3 separate regions of the Homo sapiens genome follow, and regions 2 and 3 are each linked to region 1. The links come from fine-mapping of genetic effects on plasma protein levels. A gene starts in region 1. Each other region holds a variant in brackets. All regions are shown on one strand. Distances are between the middles of the regions.

Evidence for each region. PIP is the chance, under the fine-mapping model, that this variant and not a neighbour inherited with it causes the effect. The UK Biobank Pharma Proteomics Project read protein levels with antibody pairs (Olink). The fine-mapping took linkage between variants from a reference panel, not from the people measured, so its PIPs are less certain.
Region 2: its variant is fine-mapped to the plasma level of the IL20RA protein (UK Biobank, PIP above 0.99). The variant lies in the coding sequence of IL20RA. If it changes the protein, the assay may bind it differently, which can mimic a change of level.
Region 3: its variant is fine-mapped to the plasma level of the IL20RA protein (UK Biobank, PIP 0.94). The variant lies in the coding sequence of IL20RA. If it changes the protein, the assay may bind it differently, which can mimic a change of level.

What each region holds. Positions count from the first base shown.
Region 1 is chr6:137,042,193-137,047,531 of GRCh38, forward strand. It overlaps IL20RA (interleukin 20 receptor subunit alpha), which reads right to left and starts at 2,773. Exons shown (of 7, transcript NM_014432.4): 1 at 2,449-2,773. The coding sequence starts at 2,536. RefSeq lists silencers at 2,266-2,315, 2,386-2,495, 2,526-2,585.
Region 2 is chr6:137,001,222-137,006,499 of GRCh38, forward strand. It overlaps IL20RA (interleukin 20 receptor subunit alpha), which reads right to left. Exons shown (of 7, transcript NM_014432.4): 6 at 3,400-3,539; 7 at 1-1,134. The coding sequence ends at 337. Among named protein-coding and RNA genes, the nearest start is that of NHEG1, 11 kb to the left of the region's middle. RefSeq lists an enhancer at 607-1,150. The variant G/A (reference allele first, on the strand shown) is at 3,430.
Region 3 is chr6:137,007,500-137,012,499 of GRCh38, forward strand. It overlaps IL20RA (interleukin 20 receptor subunit alpha), which reads right to left. Exons shown (of 7, transcript NM_014432.4): 3 at 3,775-3,953; 4 at 1,818-1,993; 5 at 1,100-1,244. Among named protein-coding and RNA genes, the nearest start is that of NHEG1, 17 kb to the left of the region's middle. The variant C/T (reference allele first, on the strand shown) is at 1,850.

The DNA.
Region 1 (5,339 bases):
GAGATGGGAAACACTTTGGCTTGTCTGGGAAGTAGAAAAAGGCCAGGATAGCAGGAATTAGGTGGTGTGAGATAAGGCTGGAGAGACAGGCAGGAGTTGGCCACACAGGATCTTGTAGAACTGAGAATGATTCCAGGAACAGTAGAAGCCTCTGAAGGGCTTTGAGCAGAGGAGGCAGATGACCTGAGAAGTCACCATCTCCCATTCTATCTTAGTGACTTTAAATGCCTGTTTATATTATGCTAATCATGGTTCTTTATCGTTCCTGAGAACAGGATATGGGAATGGCCAATAGGGCGGAGTTTGATAAGCCATAAGGATAAACTTCACTGTGAAATTCTGTCCCTGGAGGGGTCCAAGAGTGAATGACAGCGTGTTGCACCTGCCTTGAGGGAGCCGCATAGACATTTTGAATTCCATTACAACTTTATCTGAAATGAAATACCAAGATTTCCCTACAAGGTTCATGACATGCTGAGTTTTTTTTTTCCTCTTTGGATGTTTTGGTATTTTACAGCCTGATATGGCACTGAGCTGTGAGACGAAAATTTTTAGAAGTTTAAAAAATGAGAGCATTAAAGCATTAATCTACCTGAGAGTGGCAAAGTCATAGAACCTTAGTAAGCCCACGTTGTACAGAAGACATTGTAGATAATCCTTCAATTACGAGCAGGTAGTATCCAGGTAACTACATACATCTTCTAAGGTGGTCTTCCCAGCAGTCCTTAGACCTTAGCCCAAAGACCCAGGAGAGGACGGGAATACCCTAAGAAGAGCTAAGAAAGTAGTATCAAGGTCTCTTGGGTCAGAAAAGATTTCTTACTGTTTTGTTTTGTAAATTTTATTTTGAAGTCAAGAACATTACTACCTGGTAATGTCAGCACCCAACAATTTTATTTCTCTCTCTCACTTTCTTTGTTTTTGGTTTTTTCCCCAAAGACAGGGTCTCACCCTTGGCCAGACTGGAGTGCAGTGGCGTGATCATAACTCACTGCAGTCTGGAACTCCTGGGCACACGGAGTAGCTAGGACTACAGGTTTTTGCCACCACGTCTGGCTAGTTTTTTATTTTTATTTTTTTAATGTTTAGTATAGACAGGGGTCTCCGTATGTTGCCCAGGCTGGTCTGAAACTCCTGACCTCAAGCCATCCTCCTGCCTATGTCTCTGTCTCTCAAAGTGTTAGGATTACAGGTGTGAGCCACAGCGCCCAGCTTCTCTCTTCGATTAAAAATAAAAACAAATTTCTGTCTGTTAGTTGAAGGCTCAATATTTGCACGTCAGTCGTTTCTTCCCATTCAGTCTACCCGGGAATATTAAAAGGAAAAATAACTATAATTTCTGATAAATTTAAAAGATAAAATATTTTATGTATAATAGCTATCGTTCAAAATCTCTCCAAGATCTGTGTGCATACTTTTCTTATTGTTGTAACTATATTGAATTTAACTTTTTCTTTAACTACCAAGGACTCCAGATTCACCGTCAACTTTCTTCCTGCATTCACTCTTACTGTTCAGTTCTGGGTTAAAAGACAGCGGGGCCTGAACGAAGTGTCTACAAAGCACAGTATTTGGAGAAGCTTTGTTGTTGTTTTTTAAAATAATTTTTTTAAAAAGGGATCCCGGATATCTTTTTTGTTTTTTTAAAAAATCTTTTTCTCATGTACGAGAAATACAGGGAAAAAAAGCAATCAGGTTAATGAATCATTCTGGTTTACTGGATTCCAATTGGTAGAGAATTTAAACTTAAAAACCAAACAAAACGAAAGAGCTCTTCAGTTACCTTATGTCGTAAACGAGTTAAAAGTTTTGTTATTTCTGAAAAATCAAAGAGCACTATCTGTACATGGTCATAACTGCAAAGGAAACAACGGCGTACCCAGGACAGGGGGAGCTTACTTTAAGAAGCTGCGTCTTTCTGGATCATGTTCCTTCGGGGCTGACCCTTTCGGGGAGTTTGGCTTTTAAAGCGCGGATCTCGCGACGCGCGGCTTGCAGGACTGCGGGGCCCGGCGGCCGAGACGCGGCATCCACAGGGGCCCCTCCGCGCGGCCGCGGCGGTGGTGGCGGGAACCTGGGACTGGCCGGCGAGGGGCCCCGCATGGTAACCGTCCCCGACCGCAAGTCATAGGCTGTGGGCACCGCGCAGAGCGCACCCCCCACCGAACTCCCCCCACCCCACCTCAATTCTCGAGACCGAAAGTGCGGAGCGCGGAGTCCTGCAAACTTGACCCCGAGCCAAGGTGCGCGAGGCGACGGCGAGTGTCCCCCGGGCTCCCTGCAGCCCCGGGGCTGGAAGCTCCGGCCTCCGCGCACCTCGTCCTCTGCCCGCCCGAAAGCGAAACCTGGCCGGCGGGCAGGAGGGGAGAGCTCGGCCTCGAGCTCTGCCTGGCGGGGCCCCGGCCTGGAGGCATCCCCGACCCGCACCTGGCGGCGCGACCCACCTACCTGCCCGTCCCCAAGGCGCCGCCAGGAGCAACAGCAGCAGCGGCGGCAGCGGCAGCGGCCGCAGGGCCGGGCGGCCGGGAGCCCGCATGGGCGGCGGGGCTGGGTCACATGTCGGGGGGCAGCAGACTGCTCAGTCCCACGCCCGCTGGGGCCAAGCGCGGCCGCGCGGCCTCAGCTCCGCGCCTGGGGCTCTGCGTGCCACGCTCCAGGCGACCTGAGTCCCAGGGCGCCTCCGCCACAGCCGCGTCCCCCAGGCTTCCCCAGAAACCAAGGGCGAGCGACTCGCGGAGCCCCCACGCGCGCTCCCCCGGCTACCCAGCTGGATGGCAGCGCGAGGGCAGTTCTCGCGGATTTATAGTCCCCAGCCACTCGGCTGTCAGTCCTGAGAGTCTGAGAGTTTCCACCTCTCGGGGTTCATGCCCAGACCAACCAGGTCACTAGGCAGGTAAAACCTCCTTCTGGTAATGAGCGAGGCGAGTGCATTGCAAAGAGATTCTGGTATTCAGGCCGGTCTGATGGTCAGTTAAAGTTCAATATCGGAAGACGGATGAAATAGAGCGTTATTTCTCGATATACAGTTAGGCACTCAGCCGTAGATCTTACAGTCATGCATCATTTAAGATGACAGGATTACCTCCTGAGAAATGTCTTAGGCGAGTTTCTTGTGTGAACATCTTAGAGTGTACTCACACCTATATGGTATAGCCTCTTACACGCCTACGCTATATGGTACAGGCTGTTGTTTGCTCCTAGGCTACAAACCTGTACGGCAAGTGACCATACTGAATACTGCAAGCAATTGTAACACAATGGTAAATATTTGTGTATCTAAACATGTCTGAACGTAGAAAAGGTACAGCAAAAGTACAGTATGAAAGATTTTAAAAATGGTACACCTGTATAGGGCACTTTCCATGAATGGAGCTTGCAGGACTGGAAGTCGCTCTGGCTGAGTCTGTGAGTGGTGAGTCAATGTGAAGGCCTAGGACATCACTGTGTACTACTATAGGCTGTATAAACACTGTATTACACTTAGGCTATGCTAAATTTATTAAAAAATTATTTCTTCAATAATAATAAATTAACCTTAGCTTACTATGATTTTTTACTTTCTACTTTTAAATCTTTTAAACTTTATTTATTTATTTATTTTTGAGATGGAGCATTGCTCTGTAGCCCAGGCTGGAGTGCAGTGGTGCGATCTCGGCTCACTGCAACCTCTGCCTTCCGGTTTTGATGATTGTCCTGTCTCACCCTCCAGAGTAGCTGGGATTACATGTGTGTGCCCCCACGCCCGGCTAATTTGTTTGTATTTTTAGTACAGACTGGGTTTCGCCATGTTGGCCAGGCCGGTCTCGAGCTCCTGACCTCCGGTGATCTACCCTCCTTGGCCTCCCAAAGTGCTGGGATTACAGGCGTGAACCACGACACCCGACCTAAACTTTTTGACTTGTAATAACGTTTGACTTAAAACACAAACACATTGTGCAGCAGTATGAAAATATTTTTTCTTTGTATTCTTTCTATAAGCTTTTTCTATTTTTAAATTTTTCTTTTTCTTTATTTTTTCTTTACTTTTTAAACTTTTTTGTTATAAACTAAGGCACAACCACACACATTAGCCTAGGCCTGCACAGGGTCAGGATTGTCAGTGCCACTGATGCCACCTCACATCCTGTCCTCCTGGAAGGTCTTTAGAGACAATAGGAATTTTTTCAGCTCTATTATAATCGTATGAGACCACCTTTGTATATGCAGTCTGTCACTGACTGAAAAGTTGTTATTTGATTTCATTCAACTCTCACAACCTGCAGTTAGGTCCTGGCCCTTTTTTCAGATGAGGCAAGGGAAACTCAGAAAGTCTAGGAATCATCATGAAGTCCCCCAAACCTGTGAGTGGCCTGTGACCAGTGGTGTGTGGACTTCCACACAAGGCGGTGGGTCCTAGGTTCCATGCTCTTTATAATGGGAGGGGGGAAGGGTGCAATTAAGAGGTGAGTCTTGAAATACTATATGAAAAATCTGAGAGAGGCTCTCAGCTTTGTACCTTTCTAGGTGGTTCTAAAGGTTGGGCACAGCCTGAAGATAGATACACGATTTACCTCAGATGTGTTCCATCTCTTTTGCCCTTAAATGTCTGTTTTCAAATGCTCCAATAAAGGGAAACGACACTCAAATTAGAGCAACTATTGTTTTCTTTTTCTTTTTCTTTTTCTTTTTAAAGGGGGTCTTCAGTATTAAAAAAGATCTTTTTTGGTGAGGAGGGAGTAAGGAGATAGAAGATGGGGCAGGATTTTCTGAGTCGCCTAAGTATGCTACTTTTTCCTTCCTGAAAGACTTGGAAACAGAGGAGGAATCTGGGTCAGAGGGCCCCTTAGGCTGGGATGTTAGCTTCGTGGTGCTGACGTGAGGCCTCTTCAAACCACTTTTCTTGTTTGTTAGCTGGTTCTTTTCCTTTCCACCAAAAGGGGCCCTGAAGGAATCCTGAAAGCTGGATGAGGAAAGAAGGGACTTGCTTCCTATTTGTTTGCTGTTCTTGTCACTAAGGCCCCACAGTGCCTCTTTACCCTGGCAGGGACAGCTAGTTCTAGGAGCAATTGTTTCTAGTTCCCAGCTTCTTCCTGTACTCCCAGAATCAGCTTCACTGCATCTCCTGAGAAATACCAGCACTGAGTAGGCTATGCCCCATTCTCAGAGGTCTGAGTCCCAGTTTCCTGGAGGCTTCGCTTCTGGGATCTGAACCCCACGTCTGCCCTGTGTTCCTTTAACCCTGACGGTGGTAGTTGCTTCTAGTAGTCACTCTGTCTCTTTCAATCTCAGTATTCCTGCTTTACTTTTTTAGTACTCCAACATCTGTTTAACCAATTCCTTACAGCAAATTCTTTCTGTTG
Region 2 (5,278 bases), 41 kb before region 1:
CAAGTGTGCTTGTTTGAAAATAATGAACCAAGAGGCCAGAGTACACCCACCTGAATAAATTCTGCACCCAGTCTGGCAAACATTTATTGACTGCTTTCTCTGCATAGAACAACCGGCCAGCCCCTGGACTCCAGAGGCCCACCATCATTGTTAAGAGACCTACATGCATGAACCAATCACACACGTGCTATGAGAATAGAGAAAAGAAATAAGTAATTCTCACAGACACTGACAAACTGGAAAAAACTTCTTTCATCCCAGGTACTTTATGGCTGGGATCAAAGGGGTGACTCACTTGTTTGCACAGGAAACAAAAGGCAAAAGGAAGTGTTGGCATCAGTTTTCCATCTGCACATATAACCCCCATTCCTCCATGAATTGCATGAGATAGGTTTCATTTTCTCCTGGTGGCCTGTCTGGAGCCGGCTCCTCATAGAGTCTAGATAGAAGACCCTCCTCTCCGAGCCCATCCCCCTCAGAAGGCTCGCAGCCCTCTGAATCCTGGTCGAAGCTGGACAGCGAAGGAATACACAGCCTGCCAGTTTGGGGATCCCAGTCGACCAGGGTCGTCGATGGCTCTTCCTCCGGCCCCTCCTCCGAGTCTGTGTGCTCCTGCGCCAGGGGGTCTAAGTCTTGGAGCTGAGGGGTGTATGAGTACTGTAACGTTTGCGGGCCCAAGACTGCCAACGCTGCCTGCGACTCCAATAATGTTCCTTGTGTGGACACCTCCTCCTGCAAACTGAGCTCCTGCTCTTCAGGCCCCGCACAAATGTCAGTGGTTCTGACATCATATTCATATTCAATGACTGTTTTATCCGGGGGTATTGTTCTGCTGAGGGACTCTTGCTGGGTGAGAGAAGTACCTTCCGTGTTTTCTTCAGAGTCACAAAAAATTTCCATCAAATGCGAAGCATACCCTAAATGTTTCACCTCCTCTTCCTCCTGAGGGGGCCTCAGGTTCCCGCTGGGCTGAGGATCATTAAGGCTGGATACATCACTGCTTTTTCCCAGTAAACTCATATCCTGATGAGAAATTTTAGAATCATCCGAGATATTGAGGGTGATAAAGTTAATCACGATTTTTTCAGCAGGCACAAAGAATCTTTTGTCAAATTCATTTCCATAAATCAAAATCTATAAAGAGAAAAGAGAATGATTTTCACCTTTTCACTTTAGAGAGACATTAAAAACAGCTGTTAGGTAGAATATCTTGTCACCAGACAGTTTTAAAGACCTACTCTTACCAACTCATGTAAATGAAAGTTATGCTTGCAATATACAGAAAACCTCACTCACTGGGAGGCAAGAGACCCAAGACACACAAAAGATAGTTGGAAGCGAGAAGTGATTCGCTGGGTGGGTATTTCTCCAGTCCAGGGCTGGGGCTGGGGCGTTGGTGCCCCCTCTTCTAACTGGCAGAGGAGTTGCTTCATTTCTTGACCTTTTTTACATTCTGTAAAGTCAGAATCTCAGCCACATGAAGAGTAGCAAAGACTGGGTGTGGCAGAGTTTGTGACACTGTTTTATTTATAGTTTGCTATGCACTTGTTAATAAGCTGTGGTTACCTGGGCTACCTGCCCTGTTTTTGGATATACTTGAAATGCAGACAGGCATGAGAACTGGATGTAGAAAAGGAGGGAAATATATGAGCAGGGATGGTTTTTACCCCTTACACCATTCTTATCATGCTATAATAGAGCCAAAAAAGGAAATTCATCTGCCAGTTTACGGTAGACAGAGAAACTCTAAATCATGTCAAGGAAGCTCAGATGAGATTAAAATATTGCTGTGGGTACCATGAAAGATACCTGTTATCTAAGAGAGCATGAGTTACAATCCTCATTGTCACTCTACCATGTGATTTCATTTAACTTTACAAAACAGAACCTTCAGCCTCAATCTTTTACAACATTTTAAGTTTCAAAAAAATCACAGGTGGTCAATTCTCCTGTGAATGTTCCTTCCAGAAAAGGTCTCCCAATGCCATTAAGAAGCCAACTCTGAAACCTGAATGCAGGCAGAATCATAGAAAAACTTATAAACTGAACTAACAGGAAACAAGGTATGTTATCATGTACACGTGAACACATCTTTTAATAGTTCTCAAGAAAATGGTTTTGATTGTTAAAAATATGCTCAGCCCTTCAGAACCCTTCAGCACATTGTCCCACCTCTGTGGGTTTAATTCTTTCTTCTTTCTTGCTTCTTCTTACTGTGAAGGATTAAGTCATGGCCATGTTCCTCCTAAGTGTGTTTCCATTCCATGTCTTTCTCTCTAGACTGATATCCCACTCTCGCCTGTTAGACTTGAATCTTCTCTCCCCTGGACAAAGCTACAGTTCCCTAGGTGCTTTTCTTGTTTCTAGTCTTACTCCGCTCTAAGTTTTCCTGGAACTAATATCTGGTTGGATCTAAACCTTGATACTGACTATGATGCTCCTAACCTAAAACCCTATGGAGATTTCTCTTTGCCAGTAGAATGAGGCCTAGCTCCTTAGAACAGCACCCCAGCTCTCCCCTTACTTGGACCCACTGCCTACTCTCCAGTCTCATCTTCTTCTCTAGCTCCTCATCTGGAGCCTCCTTGTTTAGGGGTGTCATGCAGTTTCCACACATCCACCTTGCTGTTTCTTCTGCCTGCACTACGGATCCTAACTCCTACTCACCTCTCATAGCCAAGCCCTGGCATGAGAGCTGAGCCCCTGTGTAGGGTTTTGGGGCCCTCCTTGTACCCCCAGAATTCCCAGCGCCTGCTCTCATCTTAGCCTTCATGTGTTATTTTGAAATTCTAGTCCTCGACTAGGCTTGAACTTCTAGAAGGGCAGGGCAGGGATCATGATTGAATTTATCTGTGGGACCTTGTATAATCTGGTGGTTAAATAGAACATCTTTTCAAAGCTAAGGAAAATGTTCTGTTAGTCAGCTAATCCAGAAAGCTTTTTTTTTTTTTTTTTTTTTTTTTTGAGACAGAGCCTCAGAGCCTCACTCTGTCACCCAGGCTGGAGTGTAGTGGCACAGTCTCAGCTTGCCGCAATCTTGGTCTCCCGGGTTCAAGTGACTCTCCTGTCTCAGCCTCCCGAGTAGCTGGGATTATAGGCATGCATTACCACATCCAGCTAATTTTTGCATTTTTAGTAGAGATGGGGTTTCACACTGTTGGCCAGGCTGGTCTTGAACTTCTGACCTCAAGTGATCCAACTGCCTCGGCCACCCAAAGTGCTGGGATTACAGGCGTGAGCCACCATGCCCAGCCCAGAAACTGTTTTTTAATTCACCAGCTATTTAACTTTAAATTCACTCTGCCCTTAAAGGGAACTGAATCTGTTCTAGAACCTCCTCTTCTGTCCTCCTGGAGGTGTACTATTATAATAAAGAACCCTGCCACACCAAGTACTCACCAAATTTGCTGGGTGTTTCTCTTTGCCAAC[G/A]TGGATATATCGGTAGATGGAATAGCCCATCACAGAAAAAAGAAACACGGTAATAGATACGGGCAAAACATACCAGAAGATGATTTTAGCCTTGAACTCTGATGATTGATCTGTAAAAAAAAAAAAAAAGGTGGGAATTCGGGGGAAGGGATTAGATAGTTGTGATTTGATGTGATGGGAAAAACCTCGTATCGTTAAGCTGCTTCTGTGCAGATCACTTACATTTGGGAACTCAGTTTTCTCACCTCTACGTTGAGAAGCTTAAGCTAAATGTTATAAGCGGTCTCAGAATTCTTACTCTCCCTGACAAGAGACGGTCTGAAGGAATCATCTGAGTGTACCTCAAATGTTTACACTAAGGATACATCAATCATCCAAGTCAGCACATATTCCACCATCGTATGTCTGGCTATGAGATTCATGCAGGTTCTTATATTTCAAAGTAAGTGTATTTGATATTCAAGTAAGTCACAGAATTTCAAACAAACAACAAAACCCTCCAGTGAAGATCCCATTGAATTGCTCCACTTTTCCACGCCACCTGTTTGACTCAATCTTTCTGCATGTTCACTGAAAGACATGAATGCATGACGCCACTTTTATATGAGTAGCAGAACTGTTCTTGCACTGTTTGGCTGGACTTTCTGGGTAGGGCTGGAGCCTGGGGATGTGTGTAGGGAGGTGGCTGGACAGGGTGCAGTGCGAATGGCAGTTAACTCCCTTCCCGGGCCTGCTGTGCTGTAGGCTCATGATGAGTAAAAGTCCGCAGAGGAAATGAAAAGACCTGGGAAATCGTTTTAATAAAAGCAGCCCTGGCCCACACCATTAATCAGGCCATATAGCTGATGACTAGAGCTCATTGTGACTAGCTCATACTTGTTAAGCCACTGTGGTATACTTGGAAGTTGTGATGGTACATTTTACATGTCCAGTTGGCTAGGCCACAGTATGCAGATATTTGGCTAAACATTATTCTAGAGCCTTCTGTGAAGGTTTTTGTTGTTGTTGTTGTTGTTTTTTTTAATGGGAGTCTAACATTTCAATCAGCAGGTTTTTGAGTAAAGCAGATTACTACCTATAATGTGGGTGAGTCTCATCCAATCAATTGAAGACTTTCATAAAAAATGTCTTGATGACCCTAAGGAACAGGGAATTCTGCCAGGAGTCTACCTTTGGGTGCGAACTGCAAACATCAACTCTTCCGTGGGTCTCCAGCCTGCCTATCCTATAAATTCGGACTTGCCAGCCTCTACGATCCTGTGAGCCAACGCCTTAAAATAAATCAATATTTCTAAACAAATAAATATATCGATATGTGCATCTATATGTATTCTATTGGTCCTGTTTCTCTGGAGAATCCTGACTGATACAGCTGTAGGAAAAAGAGCAGCTTCAGCACAAATGACAAAAGTCCGAGTGTGCTCCTTACACACTAACAAAACCAGCAGGAGTGTGACCGGAGCATTCTAATCCAGGAGAATGTTGGATGCTCTTGATGCTTGGGCCCAAGAGAAAGCAGCAAAGTCACTATCTGGTTAACTATCCAGTTGAAAGCGAAACAGATGTGTCATGGCTGATGAGGGTGGTCAACAAGAGCCGGTGGGAAAAGTTCCGCATGCGGGCCTGTTACCCTGCACAATTCCCAAGGAGCACATTCATCACCAGGTTCCACACAGAGACGTGCCAATGCTGTGATGCGGATGCTGCGGGTGTCAGAACACCACCTGCCCTGCTTGTAGCCTATAACTCAGTCCAACCCTCTTAATACAATCCCTGGTCCCTGGATTGAGCCTGTCCTAATTGAAAAAAGTCATAACAATGACTGATAGCATTTAGTATACACTAACCC
Region 3 (5,000 bases), 35 kb before region 1:
AAAAGAAGCGGAGGAATAATGGATGAAGAGCCCTTCGATGCAGGCAAACTTTAGGATGTATTTTTTTTCAATTTTCAAGTTTTTAGTTAAAGCTCCTCTCACTGTGAAGGCAGAAAAATTAAACAAATGCCAAGCTCACAACTCTATGTCTTCTCATAGGAATGGGTATCTCCAATCACGGTTCCTTGGCAGCCCAGTGTAGAAAATGTGAAGAGGAGATAAATAAAAGGAAATAGAGAGAAGCAACTGTAAGGATAAGGAAGTGATCACTGATTTGTGGATCCCAGACCCTCATGCAGCCAATTAGTGGCACTTGAACACAACTGGAAGCACCTATAATTAGTATTCCCCAGGGAAAGTAAAAAATGAATTCTGCTTTACAGTGGTTTTAGAATAATGCTTTGTTTCTAGCAATAAAATTGTCTGATGTTCTTGAAGACCACAGAATTTCTATCAATCAGAGTGGTTATGATTTTATTTTTTATTTTTTGAGACAAGGTCTCACTCTGTTGCCCAAGCTGGAGTGCAGTGGTGCACCTATGGCTCACTGCAGCCTCTCCTGGGCTCAGGTGATCCTCCCACCTCAGCCTCCCGAGTAGCTAGGACTACAGGCATGCACTACCAAGCCTGGTTGATTTTATTTTTTATAGAGATGAGGTCTCACTATGTTGCCCAGGCTGGTCTTAAACTCCTGGGCTCAAGCCATCCTCCCTCCTTGGCCTCCCAAAGTGCTGAAATTTCAGGTGTGGGCCACTATGCCCAGCGTGATTATGATTTTAAAGAAGAAAAAAGGCATGTGTAAAAGTTCTTCATTGTTAATTCACAAGGCAGGTGGCCGAAGGACCATGGAAAGAAGCTGGCAGTGGACACGGGACCTGTATGAGTTCTCCGAGGGTGTGAGAACACTTCTGAACGTCGGCCAAGCTCAATGGCAGAGTCCCAGGCTGCTCCACGCATTTCTGGTGGTAGTTGTTTCTGCCTTTGCCTCAACCTGTTTCTGTTAGACACGGATTTGTCAAAACCTTGTCTAAACCATCATACCGACTTCTAGTTTTAGCAGATCTCCTTCCTAGACCAGCAAAGATTTTTTAAAGCTTACCTTTCAAAGTCCTGGCACACTGCTTCTCAGAAGGCTGAGCACGGCGAGGGGGCCCTGGGACGAAGGACTCCACGTGTACGCAGTAAAGAGTGTTCGGCTCCAGCCAGGTGAGCACCAGCGTGTGGTTGGTCACACACTGGGACCACTAGGATAGGGAATTGCAAACATTGGTTAGAGCCAGACATTTCTGGGACCACCCCAGACAAATAACTGTAGAAGGAAATAGAAGACCAAGGCACCATTTAATTCTTTACTATCAGTATAAGCTTTTTTTTTTTTTTTTTTTTTCAGCAACAGTTTCAATATACTCTTTTCCTTTAGCTCAGCAGAGCATGGTCAGGAACTGGACCAATGCTGAGAACAATTCTAAACAACACATGGATAGAGTTCTTATTCATTGTCCTGGGTCCTTGCTCACATTTTTTTCTTCTTCTCAGAGAAAGACTGTGCAAGTGAAAGCTCTTCATCAAAGTGAAGTGTACAATCTCTCTACACTCCAATAACAACACCATATCCTGTCAACAGAGTTTCTGTAAAGAAGATCTGAAGTTAGTTCTGTAAAATTTCTGTATATAGAACTTTATTTTGTGCGGCGTATCTTTTGAACATCATGACTTCCCAGATTCACATGCAGAGAATCAATGCATCAGGGTTGTTTGTTCCCACATTAGCTACAGAGTGGTACATGAATGTATGCCCCATTCCATTTCAGGCTTACCGTTCTGTTTGATTTAGTATTCAACACAGACA[C/T]GTTATACTTCAGATTGGAGTATATTTGTTGCATGGAAACAGGAAGGTCTTCTGGATTTCTCTTCCACTTCTCTGGAGCTGTCAGGACAACAGAAATGGACTTCTCATCTGTAGTCAGTGCCACCTCTGGTGGGCCAATTTGTGCTTAAAGGGGGAGAAAGAGGGTATTATCATGTTCAGATGAAAAATTACCTTAGGTAAAGCTACCATATAATCCTACTTGGATCAAGGCCCTAAAAGACATCCTTTTTTTTTTTTTTTTTTTTTTTTTTTTTGAGATGGAGTCTTGCCCCCTCGCCTAGGCTGGAGTGCAATGGCATGATCTCGGCTCACTGCAACCTCCACCTCCTGGGTTCAAGCGATTCTCCTGCCTCAGCCTCCCAAGTAGCTAGGATTACAGGTGCCTGCCAACACACCCAGCTAATTTTTGTATTTTTAGTAGAGACGGGGTTTCATCATGTTGGCCAGGCTTGTCTCGAACTCCTGATCCTGTGATCCGTCCACCTCGGCCTCCCAAAGTGTTGGGATTACAGGCATGAGCCACCGCGCCCAGCCTTAAAAGACACCTTCTTACAGGAGATGCCCCAAAATGTACTAAGGTGGGCCTGAGATATGCCAGATCTTGAAACCATCCTGAAACCAACCTTGAAACCAACCTTCACACAGCCTGATCCCATGTTAGAACAGCAAACTCAAGTATTCTGTTTCCTTAGTCACATGCATAAACAGTAGATGGTTAATACAATCAAAACTGTTTGTAAGATTTCTGTGACTTGAAAAGTTGGTGATAAATGACAACAACATGACTTGATAAGTGGAAAATCAGAGATGTGATTAGAATGATCTAGAACAGAGACCAGGCGACTTTTATCCTAAAGGTCTGGACAGTAAATATTTCAGGCATCGCAGGCCATATGATCTTTGTTGCACTACTCCACTCTTGCTGTATTGCGAAAGCAATCTAAGGTAACTGTGTAAACAAATGAGTGTGGCTTGTGCCCCAATAAAACTTTATTTATGAATAGACATCAACATTTCAATTTCCTTTACTTTTCCAATGTCACAAAATATTCCTTGGATTTTTAGAAACTATTTAAAAATATAAATACCATTCTTAACTCTTGGCTTGTAGAAAAACAGAAAGGGTGTTGTTGGATTTGTCCCAAGGGTAGTTTTCTGACCTCTGATCCGGAAGGGCTCCTGGACTTATGGAGCACTTGCAGAGCTCATTATGGCAGCCCTGAGTGGGTCCTTCATGACTGAGTCAGCCATAGCTCAGGGGATGGCAACATTTTAAAAGTAAATACCAGGAAGAAGTTGCCTTAATTCTGGGTTACACTTGGAAATTACATCATCACACTACCAAGTTCATACAAGAAGAAGCATAGTGGATAATCAGGACAATGTTTAATCAATCTTGTGGAGACATTAATAGTCCATAAACCCACATTAAATAAAGTCATTTTGTTCCTCAAATTACATAGCTTCCACAAAGTAGTAAGACAAAGTCAAAATTTGATATCATTGTCATCTAGTATCAATTTTGGATCTGGGAGAGATCTTAGAGACCACTTGGTTAAACCTTTCACTCTAAAGATGAGACTCAGGCTGGGTGCGGTGGCTTATGCCTGTAACCCTAACACTTTGAGAAGCTGAGGTGGGAAGATAGCATGAGCCCAGGAGTTTGAGACCAGCCTGGCAACATAATGAGGCCCTGTCTCTACAGTCAATCAATCAATCAGTCAATCAAGGTGAGACTCAGAGCCAGCAAGGTTAAGGACTTTGTCCTGCTCACTCAACCCACTGGTCCAGAATACAGCCAAGCAGAGTACCTTCCTCTGGGCAAGGCTGTCTGTGAGGCTGAGACTGTTAAACCTGATATGAATACATGTTTAACTGACCATTGCAATAATGGCATTACTTACTTTCTAAAAAAGGATAGAACCGTCCACTTTCAGCCCATTTGGAACACTTTGTTCCCCAAATGGCCTTAACTTTGGCATAATACTGGTGTTCGTAGTCAGAAGTTTCAGCAGAAAGATCACAGTAGGTTCTATTGATATTTCTGCATTCTGATTTATTCAGCCATTTCTTTTGCCCATATCTGCTAAGAAAGAAGCTGAATTAATAATGAGGTGCCCTCTATACTTTACAATAAAAAAACTCAGTCATTTTATAAAACTGAATGGAACTGACGACCTTCTCTTCAGAAAAACAAAAGTGCCTGTCATTGAGATAAAAAAGAATCCACTTTTGCGGTGGGCAATTTTTTTCATCAGCTGTCAGGAACATGAGTCAGAGTTTCTGTAATCACCTTTCTTTCTGTGAATTATAATGTGGACAGTATATTTTGGAAGCATATATTTTACTGTTATTCTTTGGCTACAGTGAAATTTTTACATATTGTGTGATCAATTCTTCTAGTAATTATCTGTGTAGGTTTTTAGTCTACTATGTACACGAGGTCAGTTTGACGGATTGTTTGAAGAACAGTTTGTCATTTTTTTCTTGGAAGAAAAATTACTTTGACGTTCTCATAGCATATAAAAATCTAAGTATCAATGATTCTAGGGAAAATACACGAGGCTGGAGTGCATACAGAAATCTGCATTTTTGATAATTATAGTGATGATGATAATATTGACTAGATTGGTCATACTGATTTTCCTTTTCTTTATTAAAAACACAACCCCCATAGCAAATAGGGAGGTGGCAATATTTTCAGCCCTTTTCAGGTGGGAGAGACTGAAGTGTAGAGTTCAGGTAACATGTGATAAGCCAGTGAAAGGGACAGGGGAGGCAGTTTGGGAAAGGTGATGGGTTACAAGTGGCAGCCTAGGGAACAGCTGAGAGGACACTACAGTGGTCCAGGGGAAGATGTAGGTCGCTTGGACAAGGACAGGGGCAGTAGGATAAATAAGGACAGGACAAAAGCAAGAAATATTAGGAGATAGGACTTGGTGATAGAAAACATGTAACAGATTAGGGAAATGAAGGTGTTAAGGATGCTGTCTCTTTCTGTCTGGGGCAGATGGGTGGAATGGTGGTGATATTTACTACGAAAAAGAGCACTGAGACAGAACAGATTTGGGAAATGGATGGGGAGGCAGAGCAGGAGGGGAAGATAAGATGTTCACTTTTGATGCCTTGA